Homo sapiens: one gene and its partners. The protein of the gene in region 1 purifies or fractionates together with the protein of each later gene. This does not show direct contact. Each region holds a gene or a part of one and is shown on either strand. Other genes may lie near its edges.

Region 1 (2,750 bases):
ATGACTTCCAGATCTGTGTCCTGCTGTGGCCTCTCCTCTTAGGATCCCAGCTGCCTGCCAACCAGCTGTGCTTGGGTGACTCCTGGGCATCTCAAAGCCCCGGTGTCTACCATCACCCATCATGGGGCTCTTGGCCTGCCCATTCAGCACGTGCATTGATGTACACACTCAGTGACTCCCATCCAAGCCTCCCCTGCACGTGCCTGGAGAGACCTGCCCATTGGACTCATCTTGGACTCAGTTCTGCCAATACTTTCTCCCTTCTAAGAGCATTTCCAGTTGGGCTGGAGTTACCCAGCTGCCTGAGAGGTCTCTTTCTGAATGAAGTCAATATCTAAAGTCAAAATTAATCATTCAAAATATTCCCTTACCCCATTTTTTTTGGGGGGGAGATGGGGGTCTTGTGTTGCCCAGGCTGGTCTTGAACTCCTGGCCTCAAGCGATCCTCCCACCTCAGCCTCCCAAAGCTCCCCTTAACCTCAGTTTTGATCCCATCCTCCATTTGGGCATTGCTCAGCTCCCCCACCTGTTAATAGCAAACACCAATCTCAAGCCCCTGCCCCAATCTGCTACAAGGGGTTAGTGTTCCATGCAGTGGGAGTGCAGGGAAGGCTTTACAGGAGAGGAGGGAGTTGAAATGGGCCTGGAGGCCTGGGATGGTAGACACTGGATCCTTTTCCCCCACAGCTCCTGGCTGTTTCTTCACACTCCCAGCATCACTATTACTGCTAGCATGTCTTTAGCATCATTTTGCCCTCCCTCTGACTTTCAGCAAGCCTGCACTTACCTCCAAATAAATGCATGTTTTCGGGGGGCAAAGGCAGGTTCCTTCCTTACCTTATTGTTGCTTCCCCCACCCCATGCTGCAGCTGAGTGGGTGACCTTTCTCCTCACCTCCGTGTGCCGCATCTCTCACCTAGTCTCTGTTAGGAACCCTACAGGAGCCTGCACCCCAGTAACCCCATTTTATGCTGCTTGGAGGAAGAGACAGAGAGTTTGAGAGGTCCCAGTTCTTTTCAGTGTGTGTTTGGTTCCCCCACTTCTCAAAGCTGAGAGCTTCTTTGTTTTAAGAGCCACTTGGTTAAGTCAAGAGCATTAGAAGAGTAAAAAGAAGAATACAATTAGATAATTTTACCTAAACATGCTATAGTCGACTAGGGAGTCACATAGACATTGATTTTCTAATGAGGGCGCTGTTGGTGATTCTTTTTGTGTGTAAAGATGCTTCTGATCATGCCTGCTATTACATGATACTTATTTCTAAAGTCACTTTTTTTTTTTTTTTTACATTTTCATTGTAGAAAAATATCCCATAAAAATTGTGCCCCCTAGAGGGCGAGGGCCACGGGAAGGGGGATCAGGAAAACAAGAATCAGTCTCTAAGCTGGTCCTGGAGCAGCATGACAGATGTATCTGAGCCCAAGCAGGAGAGGAGCCACAGGCCCAGGCTGGCAGAGTTGTGACTACTAGAATCTCGAGTCACTGGGGCTCAGGGAGCCCTAACTTGGTGGCAGGTGACAAATGTGGCACAAAGGAGAAAGGAGTCTTCTCCTTCCACATAGAACACACTTGGCTTCAGTGCTTTGGGGGGATTCGTGGACCACAGAGAAGCTTCCGCATATTTATAGGCACTGGGGACCAGCAGGAAGTGGTGGTGAGACACTTTGAAACCCTCCACTGCAGACTTCACCCAGGGGGCAAGGCAGGAGAGAATCCCTCTGTGGACAGCACTTGAGAGGAAAGGGCTTGTTCATGACCACGTATGAGGTCGCCAACCCAACCCTGTTCCTGAAGTTTCCCAGAAATAGATGGAGAGGTAAGGCCAGCTAGGCTGGAGCGCCAGCATCAGTAGTAGGGGCAGGAGCTCACGCTAAACCCGGTTGGTGTGTCCTGGAGAAGCACAGGTGTCATCTCCAGGGACCTTTCTCGACCAACTAATTTATGGAAATGAGACATTTGTAATTGATTTTAATTCCCTCTTAGGGACTGTGAAATTAAAATGGATTAAATTTTGTCCATCAGGAGCCTCAGGGATTTAATGTCCAATTCTAAAACCTGAACAGGCCCTTTTGTTTTGCAATTTGTGGACCAATCCCTGGCTTCATTTTATTTGGCTTTGCTTTCACTTCCCCATTTTCTGTTATTTTTTTTTTTTTTGTGCTGTTATGTACATCTCTTAAAGCTGGTCAAATCATATTTTGGGATGGAATGGCCTGATAAGTTAATAAATTATATTAAACTGCCAAAAAAGGAATGTGTTTTCGATTCTTCTGGCTTCTTCCTGGTTACACCAAAAGCATGGGGGAGAAAAGGAAGGGAAGTCATCGAGACACAGGTTGTCAGGGAGATTGGGGCCAAGGTCTCAAGCCCCTTGTGCTGGGCAGGTGTCTTCTTTTCATTGTTCCCTGTGGTCCTTCAGACATGGGTGGCTCTTCAGGCATGTCCACAACCCCAGGAGCCATGGCCTCAGTGGCCGGTGCAACTGGCCGGAGCCACAGTGGCTCCGGGTGTCGGGGCTGTCCTTTTGTCCCTTTGATCTTACGCAGGGTGAGGGAGCCAATCACGAGAGGCTCACCCCTGACGTCACCCAGTCCCCAGGGCCAGTGAGGGCCCTGCGTTCCATGGGGCCCCCTGGAGGGAGGAGTGGCATCTCAGTCTGCTGGTCCCTATGCATCTACTTTGATATGTCCCTCAGGATCCCTGTGCTAGGAAACCAGAGGTGTCTGAAATCCAAATAACACAAGGATAAT
Region 2 (3,500 bases), on another chromosome or scaffold:
TTAGAAGCTGGCTCTGGCTGCCATGTAGAGAATGACTAAGAGGGTGGGAATGAAGACACGGAGGCCCACGAGGAGCCAGGGTGGAAATCCAGCGGAGAGAGAGTGGTGGCCTGGCCGGGGAAGGGACCATGGCACAGGGCGAGGTGGGCAGATCTGAGATGGAGATGGCAGAATTAGGTGGACTTGGTGACTGCTTGAAGGGGACAGTGAGTGAGATGGACGGGGCCCGGTGATGCCCAGGGTTCTGTTGGGGACAACTGGGAAGAGGGGGCACCTCCACTTGAGGCGGGAACACAGGAAACAGAGCATATTTGGGGAGAGGAATGGGGCCGGCTGGGTCATGCTGAAATGAGGTGGCCAGGACAGCCGAGGGCAGCGGGGAGGTGGACGTAGGCATATGGGAGGGAACTGGGGCTGGGGGTTCCCCTAGGAGCTCGTGAGAGCAAAGATGGGTCTGGGACTGCCGGAAAATGAGAATATCTGGGGAGAGAGTAGGGAGGTGACATTGGGAAGGGGGCCTGGGACAGAGATTCTCAGCCCTGGCTGCAAACTAGAATCTCCCAGAGAGCTTTTAAAACATCCCCAGGCCAGGACCCCTCCCCAGACCAAATAAGTTGGATTATTGTGGTCAGAGCATCAGTATATTAAGTTCCCAGGTGAATAAAAGTGGGCATCCCGTATTGAGAACTTTCCAATTGGAGCCATGGTTCTGGATGAGCTGTAGCAGCATCACCTGGGGACTTATCAGAAATATGAATTCTCAGGCCGGGCGCGGTGGCTCACGCCTGTAATCCCAGCACTTTGGGAGGCCAAGGCGGGCGGATCACAAGGTCAGGAGATCGAGACCATCCTGGCTAACACGGTGAAACCCCATCTCTACTAAAAATACAAAAAATTAGCCGGGCACGGTGCTGGGCACCTGTAGTCCCGGCTACTCGAGAGGCTGAGGCAGGAGAATGGTGTGAATCCAGGAGGCGGAGCTTGCAGTGAGTCCGGATAGCGCCACTGCACTCCAGCCTGGGCGACAGAGCAAGACTCCGTCTCAAAAAAAAAAAAAAAAAAAAGAAAAGAAAGAAATATGAATTCTCAGGGCCACCCGGACCTGCTGGATCTGATGTGCAGGTGGGCCCTGCATGCCTGCCTGCCTCCCACAGGCCCCAGGTGATGCTCGCAGATACTACTGTGCTAGAACGGAACTCTGAGGGGCACAAGGCCAAAGAAAGGTGGCTCATGCCTGTAATCCCAGCACTTTGGGAGGCCGAGGCTGGCGGATCACCTGAGGTCAGGAGTTCGAGACCAGCCTTGCCAACATGGCGAAACCCCATCTCTACTAAAAATATAAAAATTAGCCTGGCATGGTGGCAGGCACCTGTCATTCCAGCTACTCAGGAAGCTGAGGCATGAAAATCGCTTGAACCCAGGAGGCTGCTGTGAGCCGAGATCACGCACTCCAACCTGGGTGACAGAGTGAGACTTGGTCTCAAAAAAAAAAAAAAGGAAAGAAAGGGATTCTGCCAAGGTGCCTCGGAGAGGAAGGAGGAAAAGCAGAGAGAATGATGTCAGGGAAAGGAGGGAGTTTGGCCCAGGTCTCCCTCCCTGCCCTTTCTTGTCCCTGGGAGGCAGCTCTGCCTGACTGTGGCCCTGGAGGCACTGGCTAGAGGAGAGTCAGGGTGATTGGCATTTCCTGGCCTCCTGACTCTGGGTTCTTCCCTGGCAGAGGCTGACGCAGGAGATCCAGAGCCGAGAGCGGGACAGGGCCACAGCATCCCACCTCTCCCAGGCCCTGCAGGCAGCGCTCCAGGTAAGCAGCTTGCCTTCAGCTTGCCCCTCTCCATGCATCACCCTTGTCCCTCTTCCAGCCCTATCCCCCACACCCAGCCTCCCCCACTGGTTGCCAGCCTGCTGTCCTTTCCTCCCTGCTCAGGACTATGAGCTCCAGGCAGACACCTACCGCTGCTCTTTGGAGCCCACCCTGGCAGTGTCAGCCCCCAAGAGACCCCGAGTGGCTCCCCTGCAAGAGAGCATCCAAGCCCAGGTGAGATGGGACCTTGCGGGGCTCAGTGGACCTTGACACCAGCTCTGTAGGGTCCAAGGCAGGAGCTGACTCTGCCCTTCCCCTCTCCCTCTGCCTTCTCCAGGAGAAGAACCTTGCAAAGGCCTATACTGAGGTTGCAGCAGCACAGCAGCAGCTGCTCCAGCAGCTGGAGTTTGCTAGAAAAATGCTGGAGAAGGTACACAGACAACACCTACAGCTTTCCCACAATAGCCAGGAATAACCAGGAATGCCCACTCCATTCCCAAAATGCCAGGCTGTCACCCTGGTAGTCTCCTTCCCTCCTCTCCCTCCTGCCTGCAGCCCCTGGGCAGCTCTGGCTGCTGGAGAGGGGAGCGGATTCCAGCCACCCAGTTTTCTCTCCAGCAGCTCTTACAGGCTGGTGTCCATCCCAGGGTTAGGCCCTGGAGATGGCATTCATGGCCACTGGGCATCCTCCAATGGGACAAGACCTCTAACCCCAGAGAGCAGAGAAAATCCCCTAGAGCTTCACCCTCAGCCACCTGGCTCTCCACCTTCGGCCTACACACCCTCAAGCCAGAACTTCTCCAGGACTCCTGGTGACTTGCCAGCTTTTCTGTTACCCTCGGCCACAGTCAGGGTCCCTGGATGGAAGGGGAAAAGGGAGAGGTTCTGGAGGGACAGGGAGAACCTGTCCTGTTTGCACTTTTTTTTTGTTTTTTGTTTTTTTTGAGACGGAGTCTCGCTCTATCACCAAGGCTGGAGTGCAGTGGCACAATCTCAGCTCACTGCAACCTCCGCCTCCCTGGTTCAAGCGATTCTCCTGCCTCGGCCTCCTGAGTAACTGGGATTACAGGCATGCGTCACCACGCCCAGCTAATTTTTTGGATTTTTAGTAGAGATGGGGTTTCACTATGTTGATCAGGCTGGTCTCGAACTCCTGACCTCAGGTGATCCGCCCACCTTGGCCTCCCAAAGTGTTGGGATTAAAGGCATCAGCCATTGCACCTGGCCCTTACTTGCACTTTCTAATGCAAACCAGGCCTGCGCACTGCCTTGGGTCCTAAAATCATTGCATTGACTGGGTCTTCTCAAAATCCTATATCCAAGCATCTTAGGTCTTCAGCTCCACCTCTGAGGACCCACTGGGGAGTCTCAGGAAACAGGGAGGGGTCTTTCATCTCAGGAAAAACATGGAGCTCCTATCTCTACCGCCCACCCCGTGCTCTACCCTTCTTCCTCTCTGCAGAAGGAGCTCAGTGAGGACATCCGAAGGACCCATGATGCAAAGCAGGGCTCCGAGAGCCCTGCCCAAGCAGGGAGAGAGTCAGAGGCCCTGAAGGCCCAGCTGGAAGAGGAGAGGAAGCGGGTGGCCCGGGTGCAGCATGAGCTGGAGGCGCAGAGGAGCCAACTGCTGCAGCTGAGGACCCAGCGGCCCTTGGAGAGGCTGGAGGAGAAGGAAGTGGTAGAGTTCTACCGGGACCCC
Region 3 (2,510 bases), on another chromosome or scaffold:
ATTCAAGTGATGCTCATGATCCTGTTACTGTGTGCCCATCATAGATTTCTTTTTTTAGTGTTGCCCTTGCTGTGTAATAAACGCTCTATCTAGTTTACCTAGCAAAAGCTCAAAACTGCGCTAGTATGGACTTTTTGGACAGACTTAGTTTTTGCACATAACCTTGTACAATCTTGCAACAGAGGCCAGCCACGTAAGATATATATCTGGACTCTCTTGTATTATAGGATTTTTCTTGTTCTGAATATCCTTGACATTACAGCTGTCAAAAACAAAAACTGGTATTTCAGATCTGTTTTCTGAAATCTTTTAAGCTAAAATCACATGCAAGAATTGACTTTGCAGCTACTAATTTTGACACCTTTTAGATCTGTATAAAAGTGTGTTGTGTTGAAGCAGCAAACCAATGAGTGCTGCATTTTGGATATTTAGTTTTATCTTTAGTTCAACACCATCATGGTGGATTCATTTATACCATCTAATATATGACACACTGTTGTAGTATGTATAATTTTGTGATCTTTATTTTCCCTTTGTATTCATTTTAAGCATCTAAATAAATTGCTGTATTGTGCTTAATGTAAATATTTGCTTTATTACACATGACAGTCCTGTGTGTCCATTATATCTTTTGCCATTTAATGCCATAACTCTTTCATCAGAGATGGCAGCCACAGTCACAGAGGAAACTTGTGGAAAACCCAAGATCTGTCATCTGCAAATAGAATGCTTTCTCTTGAGGCACCTGGTACAAAATCTGTTTTTCTTTTTTTTTTTTTTTTTTTTTTTTTTTTTTAACTGAAAAACAAACACCCTTGAGTTTTTCAGTTCACCTTTTGTTAAGGAGCAGAGCCTGCATATATATGTAAATGTCTCAATGATAAAAAAAAAAATGTAAACATGGATTGGCATTAATTTGCAAGCAGAATCTTAATAGCCTGATGGGTTTTTTGTTTGTTTTTTCTTCTAGATGAAGTTAAACGTTCGTTTTCACCTTACGATGGGAACAACTGTAGTGCAGGCGGCTCTGCCTCTATTTGCCACTCTTGGCCCTCTTGCTATTAAGGGAAAGGCTTTGAAGAGCACAGCACTGACAGGGCTGTAAAGATGGAAGGAGCTGGTATTTTTACCATGCGTAGATTCCCAAGAGAACTTGTACTAAAAAGCAGAAAGTTACAAGGAAGCAGAATTAGGCCAACATTTCCAGCAATTAAAACAATGATGGGAAACTCCAATCCATGAGGAGGCTGGTCAGTCACCTCAAGGATAGTGGCCTAAAGAAGTCTGAAGTGGCTGATGTCCATAACTTCTGAGTCTGTTTCCAAAAGAAAGACTCTTGTTAATGCTGTTACCAGAGAGTAGAGATTTGACCAGCCTCTCCCTAAAATGTAAGCTTCTCAACAACAGTACAGGAAGAAGTGCAAGAGTAGACTAGAACCTTTAAGGAATTTGGGGCTGGAACGGAGCTATGTTGCATCTGTTGTTATACAGGTAGATTATAAGTTCTACATGCACCAGCCAAAACTTAGGACAGGATGTCCCCAAATTAAGATACTACAGATTACCAAATCAGAAATAACCAGCTGGATTTAGGCCAGCTCACATTTATTTGGAAATTACCCTCCCTGATTAACAGGCTTCTGAGTTGTACGTGGAGGACTAATGAGACTTGTACAAGACACCACGGGGCTTGGGGTCCAGGTCCCAGTTGGATATCGGAACAGACACAGATAAGTGTGTTTCCTCATTAAGGTGGTGAGAGTGTGCCTTTTGGCATTCAGAAAAGGGTTTAGCCACCCTAAGAGTTGGAAATAAAGATTCCCAACTGGAAATGTTGCAGAATCCCTACAAGTGTCTCAATAAAAGCCATTTTAAAAGAATATTGTTGCTACTGTTTGCTTTTCAAATAATCTGGAGATCGTTGGCTATGGCAACGTGCTGCCACCTAATTAGAGAATGCCTGTAAATGTAGGCTGAACACTTCTAACATGAGAAAACCTAAGTATCCTACAGAGGTTTGGTGTGTTTTGTTTTTGTGGGTGTCGGGGGAAGGGGGTGGGGAGGCGTGTTTTTGGCCCTGCAGGTTTTCTCGTGGGAATGAGTTCACTCAGACAAGCTAGGACTGTGGCTTCTTTCCCTGTTCATCACATAGAGCATTTTCTCATCCTATCTTTGGTTCCTTGTCATTGTATAGGGAGAGGAGAATCTTTATCAAACAGCTTCATTCCCTCTTGCAATTCAAGCAGAAAGGGTATCTATGCCTCATATCGCTCTAGAGTTGTATGTCAGTTTGATCCCAATGCCTACTCCTTTGTAACATCCATTTCTGGCATGAACAAAATGAGTGCCAAATTTGAAAACTGCGATGTATTAAAGATGGGAGTTTCCCATCTGAGATGCTTCACGCTAGAAACAAACCTGCTTATTGCCAAATAAGTACTACCATACAGAAGTGTAGTTCCTTTACTACTTAGACCTCAGACTACTAGTACTGAGTCCTCGAGATGAGA
Region 4 (3,500 bases), on another chromosome or scaffold:
GAAGATTTTTGAATTTTGGATTTTTTTCAGATTTTGGAATATTTGCATTATACCAGTTGGGCATCCCTAACCAAAGATCCAAAATCCAAAATGCTCCAATGAGCATTTCCTTTGAGCATCATGCTGGTGCTCAAACAGCTCAGATTTTGGAACATTTCAGATTTGGAATGCTCAACCTGTACCCTGCTTGTCCTCTTCCACTCTGACATTTCTTTCTTAACTGTCATGGCAGCTTCATCTGTAGCCCTCATTCTTGTTAAATTATCTGCCTTCTAGCTTCTCCACAGCTCCATAAAAATGTAAGGGAGCCCAGGGAAGGGTAATCAAGCAGGACAGACTGGATCAGGATAGGCTTCTTGGAGGAAACTGAGTATCAACTGAAGGTTTTGTATATTTATTGCATATTGAAAATTTTGAATAGGTCACTTTCTTGGCATGGACCTCCTATGATCACAGAAGTGAGTGGCAGTTGTCATATCTTATTCCAGAGAAGCAGGCCTTTGACCAATTGGTTTCTCTGATTCCATTCCAATTTCTTATATCTGCAGGATTTGATTCACTGAGGACCATGGACACTCACCTGTTGGGCTTTCCTGAGGCTTCTCCACTTTGTTCCATTTCTTCAGAAGTTTCTTGCTTTGCTTTAAACAATCTATCTTTAGTTACAATTTCTTCAGCTAAAATATAACATTAATGATTTAAATGTCATCTGTTATGTGAATTTTGAAAAAAAAAAAAAAAAAAAAAAAAAAAAACTTCCAGGGTAGGGAATAGATGTTCCAAATCAAACAAAAAACAAATCATATTGGTGTTTCAAGGGTGCACAGTTTCAGCAATCCTACAAAATGTGGCATGGTATGGGAAAATGATAAGAAAGGTTAATTAAGGCACCAAAGCCCAGCTGCAGAGAGGGCCCAACAGGGCAGAGCACATTTCAAGAAAATTAGGCTGGGTGCTTTGGGAGGCCAAGGTGGAAGGACTGCTTCAGGCCAGGAGTTCAAGACCAGCCTGGGCAACATAGCGAGACTCCGTGTCTACAAAAAATTACCTGGGTGTAGCCCCAGCTTTTTAGAAGGCTGAGGTGGGAGGATCAGTTGAGCCCAGGAGTTTGAGGCTGCAGTGAACTATCATCGTGCCACTATGCTCCAGCATGGGCAACAAAGCGAGACCCCATCTTTAAAAAAACTAAAAAAAATAAAATAAACATGAACTGTCGTGTTCTTAGAGAGTGAAGATGACCTCCTCTGAGGTAAAGACAAGGTCAGACAGAGGTGTTCATGGGGCTTCCAAGTATGAAGGGATATCTGAAAGACAAGTTATATGGAATCCTTGACAGGGAAGAAAAAAGGGGAAAAGGATACAAAGGAGTCACTGAAGGAATCAGGGAACTAGAAGAGATGATCAGAGAAGATAACCACAACAATCAGTAAACTGATTAGTAACAGAAGAAAATGTGATTGGGAAGGATGCAAAGTGATAAGGGCTAGAAGTCTGGAGGCAGAGGCCAGAAGAAGGGAAAGGAAGGGTGTGGGTCTGTAGGAAACGTGGCCTCCCAAGGGCCAAGCCAGGGTGAGTGACAGGAAAATGAGAGTCCAGACAGGGGTCCAGCCAGAGGCCTGGCCTTACTCATCGGACTGAGGCTCATAACTGTCTCCTGAGCTGAGTTCCCACAGAGGTTCCTCCGAGTCAGACTCAGATGTGACCACTTCTCTGCAGCAACGGCCTGGGCTGTTTCTTCCTCAGTCTTCACCAATGTCTAAAAAGACAAAAAAAGAAAATAGCCTCTTTGTTTTCACATGGTAAGGAATCCAGTTGTGAAGGGTGTTGAATACCACGCTGTAGACCGGTAGTCCCAGCCCCTCAGGGCATTTTGTAAACTTGTGGGAACCTTTCTGGTTATAACAATGAAGTCCACCACCACCTCAAGCCGATGCCATTCAGAGGGTGAGGCCAGAGATGCTAGGCATCTTGAAATATGTGGGACAGTCCCACACTACAAAGAATTCTTCCACATCCTGCAGGACTTTTGAGTGTCCTCCTGAACCAAACCTACAATCAGTATAAATCAGCTACACTGAAACATAGGAAACCTGAAGAGTTTTTATAGGATGATACTGAAAAAAAGTCAGTAATTCAAGAAAGTTAGAGAAGGAAGCTTACATCGATTAAAGACATTGTCACAAAAGTTGACTCACTTGGATTGTTCTACACACTATTTTACAGCATTTTCTATGTATTTGGTTGAACAGCACTTCAATATAATATTGCAGTTATAACAAATGCAATTAAACTGACTACAAATACCTAACAGAGTTTTGAGACTCCTTTTAACAGATTTGGAATCTAATGTAAATGCAGAAATCTCACTGAATTTCATCAACAAAGATTGTTTAAAAACATTTCAAAGCTAGTAATGATATGTAGGCTGGAAAAATCATACACTGAATTTATTTATTTGGGGAACTGTCTGAGATTTTCTATCTCTCTGACACTGTCCCAAAAGGCTACCACATGGTTTCATTAGCCTCTTGATTTTCTCTCATTTTCCAATCTACTTTCTCTTTCTTGTTGCCTGAAAAAGGACACAGTGCCAGTCTTTTAGAGAATGAATATCTGTTTTGACAAGGAGGGGGTTTCAAGACAGAAGATGTTTTCTCTTTAACTCATCATCACCCTATTCCAAACTACAGATAATTATTTTGATAATAAAAGGCAAAGCCCACCTCATTTAAACATAGGCCTACCTCAGAGATATTGCAGGTTCAGTTCCAGACCACCACAATAAGGCAAATATCACAATAAAGCAAGTCACAGAAATTTCTTGGCTTCCGAGTGCATGTGAAAGTCATGTTTACACTATACTATGTAGTCTATTAATCGTACATAAGCATTGTGTCTAAAAAAGTATATATCTTAATTTAAAAATACTTTATTGCTAATACATGCTAATAATCATCTGAGCCTTCAGAGAGTTGTGATCTTTTTGCTGGTAGAGGGGCTTCCTGCGATGTTGAACGATGCTGACTAATCAATGTGGTGGTTGCTGAAGGTTTCGGTGGCTGTGGCAGTTGCTTAAAATAAGACAACAGTAATGTTGGCCACCTTGATTGACTCTTCCTTTCACAAAAGATTTCTGTGTAGCATGCAATGTTGTTTGATAGCATTTTACCCAGAGTAGAACTTCTTTCAAAATTGTAGTCAATCATCTCAAACCTGCTGCTGCTTTATCAACTACGTTTATTTAATATTCTAAATCCTTTGTTGTCATTTCAACAATGCTTCACCAGGAGTAGATTCAATCTCAAACCACTTTCTTTTCTCACCCATAAGAAGTAACTTATCTGTTCAAGTTTTGTCATGAGATTGTAGCAATTCAGTCACATCTTCAGGTTCCACTTCTAATACTAGTCCTTTCCACCACATCTGCAGCTACACTATCCACTGAAGTCCTAAACCTCTCAAAGACAATGATGAGTGTTAGAACCAATTTCTTCCAAACT

What was found.
Region 2: the proteins of ZSCAN20 (region 1) and EVPL purify together in Homo sapiens (affinity purification with mass spectrometry; 3 studies listed by BioGRID and IntAct, with this or other methods). This does not show direct contact.
Region 3: the proteins of ZSCAN20 (region 1) and ADNP purify together in Homo sapiens (affinity purification with mass spectrometry; 3 studies listed by BioGRID and IntAct, with this or other methods). This does not show direct contact.
Region 4: the proteins of ZSCAN20 (region 1) and PGBD1 purify together in Homo sapiens (affinity purification with mass spectrometry; 3 studies listed by BioGRID and IntAct, with this or other methods). This does not show direct contact.

The regions. Positions count from the first base shown.
Region 1 is NC_000001.11:33,499,394-33,502,143, forward strand, and holds the end of ZSCAN20 (zinc finger and SCAN domain-containing protein 20), read left to right. Parts: 3' UTR 1-2,250; downstream 2,251-2,750. UniProt on the Homo sapiens protein: May be involved in transcriptional regulation.
Region 2 is NC_000017.11:76,010,307-76,013,806, reverse strand, and holds part of EVPL (envoplakin), read left to right. Parts: intron 1-1,717; coding exon 1,718-1,801; intron 1,802-1,924; coding exon 1,925-2,035; intron 2,036-2,138; coding exon 2,139-2,231; intron 2,232-3,263; coding exon 3,264-3,500. UniProt on the Homo sapiens protein: Component of the cornified envelope of keratinocytes. May link the cornified envelope to desmosomes and intermediate filaments.
Region 3 is NC_000020.11:50,888,418-50,890,927, reverse strand, and holds the end of ADNP (activity-dependent neuroprotector homeobox protein), read left to right. Parts: 3' UTR 1-2,010; downstream 2,011-2,510.
Region 4 is NC_000006.12:28,295,072-28,298,571, reverse strand, and holds part of PGBD1 (piggyBac transposable element-derived protein 1), read right to left. Parts: intron 1,757-3,500; coding exon 1,627-1,756; intron 1,186-1,626; exon of another isoform or gene 1,049-1,185; intron 678-1,048; coding exon 581-677; intron 1-580.